Linked DNA regions of Homo sapiens: region 1 is linked to region 2. A link means that fine-mapping ties the variant in region 2 to the expression of a gene that starts in the linked region. Tissue or cell type: tibial artery. Region 2 holds a variant in brackets; the other region holds the start of a gene. All regions are shown on one strand. Distances are from middle to middle.

Region 1 (5,000 bases), 22 kb before region 2:
GGTGCGACACATGGAGTCTAGGATCATGATCCCCTTGAAGATCTCGCCTCTGCAGTGATGCTGCCTACACCTCCACCTCCTTCCCCTTCTCCCTCAGGCAACCCCGACAGACAGTGGCACTCCTGGTCCTGCTGTCTTGGTTTTGTCTTGGCTCTGGGAGGACTCTGAGGGGCAGTGCTCAGTTCAGACAAGGGGGAACTGAAGGCTGACAAGTTCTGAGGATTACAGCTCTGCCCAGGCCCTTTCTACTTTCCCTGCCTGCCTCCCTCCCCCTGCTAGAAGTAGTTTCTGATTTCCCTGAATGAAAGATAGTGATCTTTTAGGCCTTCATTTATCTTCTAAAATTCCTCATCTCAAGGCCACCAGTCCCCAGTTATCACCCTTGGAAATCCTCTGTTTAGCTTAGTTGCACAAAAGGTAGTATGTCCAGTGGCTAGAGGTGGGGTGGGAAGAGAGGAGGCCAGGCCAGGCCCTCAGGAATTCCCTGGTTTCCACTGGGCCACCCACTTGCTGGACAGTCTGAGCCAAGTCCCTCCTGCTGGAGAAAAGCCTGGAACTGCCAAAACAAAAAAACAAATACAAACAAACCTCGTCACCACGGTCAGGAGGAGGTTCAGACATTCTGCCCAGAGGGGCTGGGGAAAGGGATGGGAGCCAGGAAAGATTTAGGGGCAGGAGACAGACACGTAACAGGAACTCGGAAGGTAGAACTTAGAATTCAGAACTTGGGTTTCAATTGTAGAATTTGGAATCTGGAATACAGAATTGGGAAGAAGAACAGAGATGACAAAAGACCACTTGAAGAGAGGTTCCTAATACTAGACAGATGGAGAGTGGCTTGGCTGTTTCCCCCTGCATATTGGGGTTGAAAACTTAAATGTGTAGTTCCAGTCCTTCTATGCAGAGTCTCTCCTGCCCTCCCTCCTTCCTGCAGGCAAATATACAAGCTAGACCCTGTTCCCTCACCCTGTATCCTGTCTCCCCTAATTGACATTCTATCAGCCCAACCCTCATTCTGCAGGGCCACCTGGTGTGTGGAGGTGGCGGGAGGGGTCAGTGACTCTGGGGGTCTCCTCAGTGACCCCCATACCTCATCATGAACCCTTGGGTAGCTTGATTCTGCCTACCATCCAGGAAAACTTGTGCTGGAATTGCTGATGGAAACAATTAAATATTTACTATAAATCAGTGTCTTTTCTTCATCTGCAAGGAACTTTAGCAGGTGCCTGAGGCAGGGCACAGTAGAGCTGGTGGGCTTAGTCCCACATGGCAGATCTACCCTCCTGGAGGGTACTGTGTTCTTGAGCTATTCTCAACAGTCAGTACTGGTTGGGTGCAGTGGCTCACGCCTGTAATCCCAGCATTTTGGAAGTCCGAGGTGGGCAGATCACTTGAGTGAGGTCAGGAGTTCAAGACCAGCCTGGGCAACATGGTGAAACCCTGTCTCTACTAAAAATACAAAAATTAGCTGGGCATGGTGGTGCATGCCTGTAATCCCAGCTACTTAGGAGGCTGAGGCAGGAGAATCCTTTAAACCCTGGAGTCGGAGTTTGCAGTGAGCGGGGATTGCGCCACTGCACTTCAGCCTGGGTGAGAGAGCAAAACTCTGTCTCAAATAAAAATAAAAATAAAAAAGAGCCAGTATTTTCCTCCTTGCTCCTGGGAAGGAGAAGGAACTGGCCCCGTACAACCAGGGATTCAGGACACGTGTTACTAGCTCCAGATGAGGATTTACACGAAAAAATCCTGGGCCTTGTTTGTACAGTTCATGCCAGGGGTAGGAAATACCTGAAGCTTTCAAATACTGCGTTAGAGTTGTGACTCTGTCCTGGGCAAGTCAGGCCTAAAATGGAGAAACTGGTGATGCACTCCTCAAAAAGCCAAGTGTAAAATGAGGTTAATGCCCTCCCTGACTTGTTGCCTTCACTGGCGTGGCATATTATGGTAAAAATAATAATTAAGAAGTAAGGTTATGCAGGCAAATCCTCTAGCGCCGAAATCTTCCCCGCCGCGCTACCAGGTTCTTTCGTGTTATCTTGGACATAACACAACATTAATTCAACTACTCGGTGGAGCGCCCACTAGCTGCTGGACACTCTCTTAGGCCCTGGGCACAGTGAACGAGAAGCATGTGTCTTTGTTTTTACAGTCTCACCACGCCACCACCTCCCTCGGGGGCCTCCGCGCTGAGCTTCCGGCCTCTACGCCTCGCTTCCGGTCGGCCGCCCCTTCCTTACTTCCGGTTCTCTATGGTGCGCGGGCAAGCTTTGCTCCGCCTCCGGCAGTGGCTTACTCCCGGTGCCAGGTTCTTGGAGCTGTGAGGTGAGGAGGGGACAAGGGCAGTGGGGCTGGGAGATGGGGCGGGGCTGGGCGCTCCGGGACTGAGGTGCTGATCGCCCAAAGGGCGCCCCTGGGCTGGGGTCTGACCCGGCTTCTCCTCCCTCACTACCCGCGGTCCCCGGCCTCTCGGCGCTGCGCTGTTACCTCATCCGAAAAGTGTTCGCTGCAGCATCCTCAGGCTTCACGTTGGAGCCTCTTGATTGTGGTAATGTAGCCTGATGGGGGTGGGGGTGGTGGTGATGGTAACAGCTCACATATATCGTGCTCTTCGGTGTGCCAGGCACTCTACTGTGTTGCCAAAGTCAGGATTTCCCACACTTAAGCCTTTCAGGTCCGGTCTTTGTAGGCTTTGCCAGATCAACTTACCACCTCTACTACCGTTTATTAAAAATTTGTTTGTTTGTTTGTTTTAGTATTTATTGATAATTCTTGGGTGTTTCTCGCAGAGGGGATTTGGCAGGGTCATAGGACAATAGTGGAGGGAAGGTCAGCAGATAAACAAGTGAACAAAGGTCTCTGGTTTTCCTAGGCAGAGGACCCTGCAGCCTTCCGCAGTGTTTGTGTCCCTGGGTACTTGAGATTAGGGAGTGGTGATGACTCTTAAGGAGCATGCTGCCTTCAAGCTTCTGTTTAACAAAGCACATCTTGCCCCGCCCTTAATCCATTTAACCCTGAGTGGACACAGCACATGTTTCAGAGAGCACGGGGTTGGGGGTAAGGCTATAGACCAACAGCATCCCAAGGCAGAAGAATTTCTCTCAGTACAGAACAAAATGGAGTCTCCCTTGTCCACCTCTCTCCACACAGACACAGCAACAATCCGATTTCTCTATCTTTTCCCCACATTTCCCCCCTCTCTACTAGACAAAACCGCCATCGTCATCATGGCCCGTTCTCAATGAGCTGTTGGGTACACCTCCCAGACGGGGTGGCGGCCAGGCAGAGGGGCTCCTCACCTCCCAGAAGGGGCGGCCGGGCAGAGGCGCCCCCCACCTCCCGGACGGGGTGGCGGCCAGGCGGAGGCGCCCCCCTACCCCCGACCCGACGGGGCGGCTGGCCGGGCTGGGGCTGGCCCCCACCTCCCCCCCGGACGGGGCGGCTGGCCGGGCGGGGGCTGCCCCCCACCTCCCGGACGGGGCGGCTGCTGGGTGGAGGGGCTCCTCACCTCTCAGACGGGGCAGCCGGGCAGAGACGCTCCTCACCTCCCAGACGGGGTCGCAGCCGGGCAGAGGTGCTCCTCACATCCCAGACGGGGCGGCGGGGCAGAGGTGCTCCCCACATCTGAGATGATGGGCGGCCGGGCAGAGACACTCCTCACTTCCTAGACGGGATGGGGTCCGGGAAGAGGTGCTCCTCACTTCCCAGACTGGGCAGCCGGGCAGAGGGGCTCCTCACATCCCAGATGATGGGCAGCCGGGCAGAGACGCTCCTCACTTCCCAGACGGGGTGGCGGCCGGGCAGAGGCTGCAATCTTGGCACTTTGGGAGGCCAAGGCAGGCGGCTGGGAGGTGGAGGTTGTAGCGAGCCGAGATCACGCCACTGCACTCCAGCCTGGGCACCATTGAGCACTGAGTGAACGAGACTCCGTCTGCAATCCTGGCACCTCGGGAGGCCGAGGCTGGCCGATCACTCGCGGTCAGGAGCTGGAGACCAGCCTGGCCAACACAGCGAAACCCCGTCTCCACCAAAAAATACGAAAACCAGTCAGGCGTGGCGGCGCGCGCCTGCAATTGCAGGCACTCGGCAGGCTGAGGCAGGAGAATCAGGCAGAGAGGTTCCAGTGAGCCGAGATGGCCGCAGTACAGTCCAGCTTCGGCTCGGCATCAGAGGGAGACCGTGGAGAGAGGGGGAGGGGGGAGGGGGAGGGGTTTACTAAAAATTTTTAATCCAGTCCAAATTTTTTTTTTGCAACGGGATCTCTGTTGTCAAGACTGAGTGCAGTGGCGCGATCATAGCTCACTGCAGCCTGGAACTTCTGGGCTCAAGCCATCCTCCCACCCTAGCCTCCAGAGTAGCTTGGGACCACAGGTGTGCACCGCCATACTAGGCTAATTTTAAAATGTTTTCTAAAGATGGGGTCTCGCTCTGTTGCCCACTCTGGTCTTGAACGCCTGGGCTCAAGCGATTCTCTCACCTCTGCTTGCCTTGGTTTCCCAAAGTGTTGGGATTACAGGTGTGAGCCATGGTGTTGGGCCCAGTCACTTTTTTTGTTGTTGTTGAGACTGAATCTCGCTCTGTTGCCCAGGCTGGAGTGAAGTGGCTGCGATCTCGGCTCATTGCAACCTCTGCTCCCTGGGTTCAAGTGATTCTCCTACCTCAGCCTCCTGAGTAGCTGAGATTACAGGCGCCCGCCTCCACTCCCGGCTAATTTTTGTATTTGTGGTACTGACGGGGTTTCACCATGTTGGCCAGGCTGGTCTCAAACTCCTGACCTCAGGTGATCCACCCGCCTCAGCCTCCCAAAGTGCTGGGATTACAGGCCTGAGCCACTGCGCCCAGCCAAGTCACTTTTTAAACTCAAATTTACTTTGAGAGAAAACTTGAAATCTCTCCACCAGAAATGGAAAGCTGCTTTCACTTGTTTTATGTAGAAGGTAAAAATTAATATAGTTAATATAATGCAACTAGATCATTGTTAACAAACTCTGGCTAGATTTTGT
Region 2 (5,256 bases):
GTTTAGGGCCATTTCAATAATGCTGCTATGAGCATTCTTATACATGTGTTTTGGCATACATGTGTACATCTGTCTGTTGAATATATACCCAGGAATGAAATTCTAGGTCATACAGTATGTTATACATATATTTAGCTTTTGTAGACACTGAAACAGTTTTCTAAACTGGTTGTACCGATTTACAGAAATTCCCACCAGCACCATATGCAAGTTCTAATTGTTTTACATCCTTGTCAACACTTTATACTGTCAGTCTCCTTAATTTTGGCTACTCTGGAGGGTATCTCATTATAGTTTTAATTTTTATTTCCCTGAGGACTAGTGATGTTGAACACAGCACATTTTGCCTTTTGGATAACCTCTTGTGATGGGTCTAGGCAAGTCTTTTGCCTGTTTTCTGTTGGGTTGCCTGGAGATGAGTTTTTTCCCAGGTCTTCCCCATTCTGTAACCTCCTGCCTTTTCACTTTGCTAATGGTATCTTTTAATGAGTGCATGTTCCTAATTTTACTAATTATTCTTTTCCTTTATGGTTAGTACTTTTTTTGTGTCTTGTTTAAGAAATCTTTCTATTTAAATCTGTTGTCATCCTGGAAGTGATTTTGTTAGTTAAGGGTAAAGATTCATTTTTTCTTTCCACATAGGTATTTAGCTGACCATTTATTGAAGACATTCTCTTTCCACTGCTCTGTAGTGCCACTTTTGTTACAAATCAAATGTCTTTGTACATGTGGATATGTGTATAATCTCTGTGTCCATCCTTGCACAGTATCACACTGTCTTATTTACTGTGGCTTTATCAGAAGTCTCGATGCACAGTTCCAACCTATTTCTTCAGGATTGTCTTGGTTATTCTTGGCCCTTTGCATTTACATACAAGTTTCAGAATCAGGTTGTCTGTTTTCACCTGCTGGGATTTTGACAGGGATTGCATTGAATCTGCAGACCACTTTAGAATAAATTGTTACCTGGACAATATTTGAGTCTTCCAGGCCATTGACATTCACATGTATCCACTTATTTTAGACTTTTCATTTCTCAGGTTTTTGTGTAGAGGCTTATATGCCTTTCATTTGTTTATTTTATTTTGTTTTATTTTGAGGCAGGGTCTTGCTCTCTTGCCCAGGCTGGAGTGCAGTGGTACAATCTTGGCTCACTGCAACCTCCGTCTCCCAGGTTCAAGTAATTCTTCTGCCTCAGCCTCTGGAGTAGCTGGGATTACAGGTGCGTGCCCCCACACTTGGCCAATTTTTGTATTTATAGCAGAGATTGGGTTTCACCATGTTGGCCAGGCTGGTCTCAAACTCCTGACCTCAGGTGATCCACCTGCCTCGGCCTCCCAAAGTGCTGGGATTACAGGCATGAGCCACTGCACCCAGCCTGCTTGTTTATTATTTTTTGTTTGTTTTTTGAGACAGAGTTTTGCTCTTGTTGCCCAGGCTGGAGTGCAATGGCATGATCTCGGCTCACCGCAACCTCCACTTCCTGGATTCAAGTGATGCTCCTGCCTCAGCCTCCCGAGTAGCTGGGATTACAGGCATATGCCACCACGCCCAGCTAATTTTGTATTTTTTTTAGTAGAGACGGGGTTCTCTGTGTCCGTCAGGCTGGTCTTGATCTCCCGACCTCAGGTGATCCATCTGCCTCAGCCTCCCAAAGTGCTGAGATTACAGGCGTGAGCCACTATGCCCGGCCTGTTTATTCTTATTTGATGTTTTATTGATGGTATTGAAATGGCATCTTTTTATAATTTCTTTTTTTAAATTGATTTTTATTTTTTGTGGAAATGGCATCTCGCTAAGTTACCCAGGCTGCTCTTGAACTCCTGGCCTCAAGTGATCCTCCTGCCTCAGCCTCCCAAAGTGCTGGGACTATGGGCATGAGCCAGGGTGCCCTGACAGTAGGTAAAATAAAACAATTTTATTTCCTTACTGTTTGTTGCTAGTATAAAGAAATATAATTTTGTTTACGTTGAGCTTTTATCCACCTATTAGTTCTATTAGTTTATCATGTATCACTTTTATAAATAATGATTTACGGTCACTAAGTAGCCACTTTTTCCTGTGTGGACTGGCTAAAAAAGGAAGAACAAAAATCTGTCTCTTGTGTGCAGGCTTCCCTTCCGGTGCAGGAGTACCTGTTTATGCCATTCGACCAGGCTCACAAGCAGTATGAGACAGCCAGACACCTGCCGCCTCCCCTCTATGTCCTCTTTGTTCAGGCCACTGCGTATGGGCAGGCCTGTGGTGAGTATGGGGCCTGGGTGAGGACAAGGGGCTATGGGAGCAGCAGCTGTGGCCGAGTGAATCAGTTGGAAGCAGTACCTGCTCAGGAAATTTCTCAGTCCTGCCCGAAGCCCTC[A/G]GGTGACAGAAGCTTTCTTCCCTCTGCATTGCCCAGCATGGCTGCTCTGACCAGCTGGCCTAAGGCTGGATTAACCTGATGGGTATTTCACAATGGGTGGCTTTGAGTCATTCGTGAGCCTGGCTGGACAGCTCTTGGGTGCAGAACCCAGGCAGCCTGTCTGGGCTCCCAGGTGCTCACCCCATCAAGGCACGCTTGGCAGTTAGATCAGTGCCTCTTGCTCTGCTTCAGGGTGGGGGTGCCTGGTGAATACAGGTCTCAGCCAGCTCTCCCAGGCTTTCACCATGCCTTGAATCAGGCTGCATGTCTTTGTTGTGAATTTCCAGGTTAGATGATATGTCCTCATTAAGCTTGAGGGCAGCCTGTGACTCTGCTAGGGTTTTGAGAAAATTTTGGAGACTCTGCCTTTTGCCCTAATGCAGCTTTCACCCAGCACCTACATTTTCTCCCCCACCCCACCCCACCTCATCAGACAGACATACACCGCACCAGTGCTTGCTTCTCCTCCCACCTTGGGCACCAACACATTACTGTCTCTTCTTGTGTCTTCCTCGTCCTTCTGGTCCTCCCCTCCCCTTTGTTCTCCCTCCTGTTTCCATCATCAGCTCATATGAAATCCTCCCAGCCCCCTAGACAGGGTGAGTAATTTTCTTTTCTTTTATGTTTAAAATCGGCCTGTTCCATTCTGATGTTCTTGTAGAATGCTAATATTAAATGGCTGAAAAAAATAGTCTGTTGTTTGCCAGTGCTTGATGGGAGCAACTAGTTGCTTGGGGTGAAGGGTGGTGATTCACATAGGGTTGCCATAGATAAGGCAGTGGTCAGCCACTTGGGGGAAGTTTGCCATCCCTCCTTAGTGTGGCTAGGCAAACCGTTTCAGGCTCTTGGGACCATATGTACCCTTAAGAATGGAGTTGGACGGTGGTGGCCTGTCTGACCTCACAACGCTAGACCCTCAGAGGGGGTCTCAAGACATCACTCAATGAGGTGTCATACCTGGTGTATGCAACAGGCTGTTAGCTCATGTGCTGGAGAGGCCAAGCTTAAGTTGAACAGACCTGGTCTTGAATCCTGGTTTATCAGCCTTATAGCTGTGATGTCTAGCTTCTCTGAGCCTTAAGTTTCTCATCTATAAATGGCTATAATGTATTACTCCTGTAGGGTTGTTGTGAGTATTAAAAAAAATTTTTTTTTTTGAGATGGAGTCTGGCTCTGTTGCCCAGGCTGGAGTGCAGTGGCATGATCTTGGCTCACTGCAACCTCTGCTTCCCAGGTTCAAGCAATTCTCCCTGCCTCAGCCTCCCAAGTAGCTGGGATTACAGGCACCCACCACCGTGCCTGGCTAATTTTTATATATTTAGTAGAGACAGAGTTTCACCATGTTGGCCAGGCTGGTCTCGAACTCCTGATCTCAGGTGATCCACTCACCTTGGCCTCCCAACCAGACATGAGCCACCACACCCAGCCTAAAAATTAATTTTTAATAATTTTATAATTAAAATTACAAGCATCAGCTCATTCAGTCCCCACCACTAATGGGGCAGCTACTGTTTTTCTTTTTTCTTTTTTTTTTGAGACAGAGTCTCACTCTGTTGCCCAGGCTGCAGTGCAGTAGCATGATCTTGGTTCACAGTAACCTCCACCTCCTGGATTCAAGCAATTCTCCTGTCTCAGCCTCCCAAGTAGATGGGGTTACAGGCACATGCCACCACACACAGCTAATTTTTGTATTTTTAGTACAGACGGGATTTTGCCATGTTGGCCAGGCTGGTCTCTGAACTCCTGACCTCAGGTGATCCACCTGCCTCGGCCTCCCAAAGTGCTGAGATTACAGGTGTGAGCCACTGCACCCGGCAGCTACTATTTTTCAAGTCCCCTTTTCATAGATACAGAAACTGAGGCTCAGACAGTGACATAACTTTCCAGGTCATGTGTTTGAGAATTGGTTAGGCAGGGACTCAGGTCTGGAACTGGACTGCAAGATCCAAGTTCCTATTCACTGTCCTACTGCCTCCCAGTTAAGTGAGACAATGGCAGCCATGTGCTTGGTATAGTGTAGAATAGAGAATAAGCACTTAGGTGAGAGTCATTGTTTCTGGGATGTGGACAGGTGTGGATTTCTGGGTGAGAACCTCTAAGACAACTGGCAGAGGAGTTCCATGTGGCTTTAGGCCCTCAGTTTGAATTTCTGTGCTTTGGTGTGCACCAAAAAAGAGAGGCATTCACTGCTAGTTTCAGGTGATGCTGGTTTAGGAATTTGTACTTAAGTTCTCTGTTCTCAGTAAATGACGGAAAAAAAAGCTTAAGTGTCCCACCTTGTTTCCCTTCATCTGGAGCAAGGACTTTTGCCCTTCCACCCTTAGTCAGCAAGGAGCTGGGCAGAGGTGGGAGAAATGCAGCCCCAGAGCTGGCCTACTCACACTGCTTAGCAGCTTTCCTCAGCAGCTTTCCTAACAGACTTCTTCTTGCCCCCCAGATAAGACGTTATCTGTGGCAATCGAAGGCAGTGTGGATGAAGCCAAGGCTCTGTTCAAACCTCCAGAGGACTCCCAAGGTAATGTGGTGGTTGGGATTCGTCCCCCAGGGACACCAGGTCACCATCCAAGGGCAGTCCTGGTCTTTGGAGAACTAGCTGGACTAGTTCTGTGTAGCAGGAAGCTTGACTTGAATGTCTTAGCACCCTGGAGTAGACAGGAAAGAGAGCTCACTTCCCGGAGTCACAAGGTGCGGCCCGTGGATTTCAGCCCTGCCACTCACTAGCTGACTGACCCCGAGGAAGGTATTTAATATTTCAGAGCCTCAGTTTATTCCTTTGTGAAAACAGATAGTAACACCTCATGTAGGATTGTTATGTGGATTAAATAAGGTAATGCACATACAGCCTTTAGCATAATTCT

Which allele goes with the higher level. Alleles are on the strand shown, and positions count from the first base shown. SD is a standard deviation of normalised expression in the study named.
For the expression in tibial artery of the gene that starts at base 2,236 in region 1, A is the high allele of the variant in region 2 and G is the other (large effect, 1.2 SD a copy in GTEx).

The links. PIP is the estimated chance that this variant, and not a neighbour inherited with it, causes the effect.
Region 1: THOC5 starts here. The variant in region 2 is fine-mapped to the expression of THOC5 in tibial artery (GTEx, PIP above 0.99). The same link has a PIP of 0.9 or more in aorta, atrial appendage, breast, esophagus mucosa, esophagus muscle and fibroblasts.

What each region holds. Positions count from the first base shown.
Region 1 is chr22:29,550,993-29,555,992 of GRCh38, reverse strand. It overlaps THOC5 (THO complex subunit 5), which reads left to right and starts at 2,236. Exons shown (of 20, transcript NM_003678.5): 1 at 2,236-2,322. NIPSNAP1 (nipsnap homolog 1) reads left to right here. Exons shown (of 10, transcript NM_003634.4): 10 at 1-1,185. The coding sequence ends at 58. RefSeq lists enhancers at 1,866-1,935, 1,319-2,016, 3,414-4,113 and a silencer at 2,336-2,525.
Region 2 is chr22:29,528,819-29,534,074 of GRCh38, reverse strand. THOC5 (THO complex subunit 5) reads left to right here. Exons shown (of 20, transcript NM_003678.5): 8 at 2,112-2,244; 9 at 4,836-4,913. Among named protein-coding and RNA genes, the nearest start is that of THOC5, 22 kb to the left of the region's middle. The variant A/G (reference allele first, on the strand shown) is at 2,360.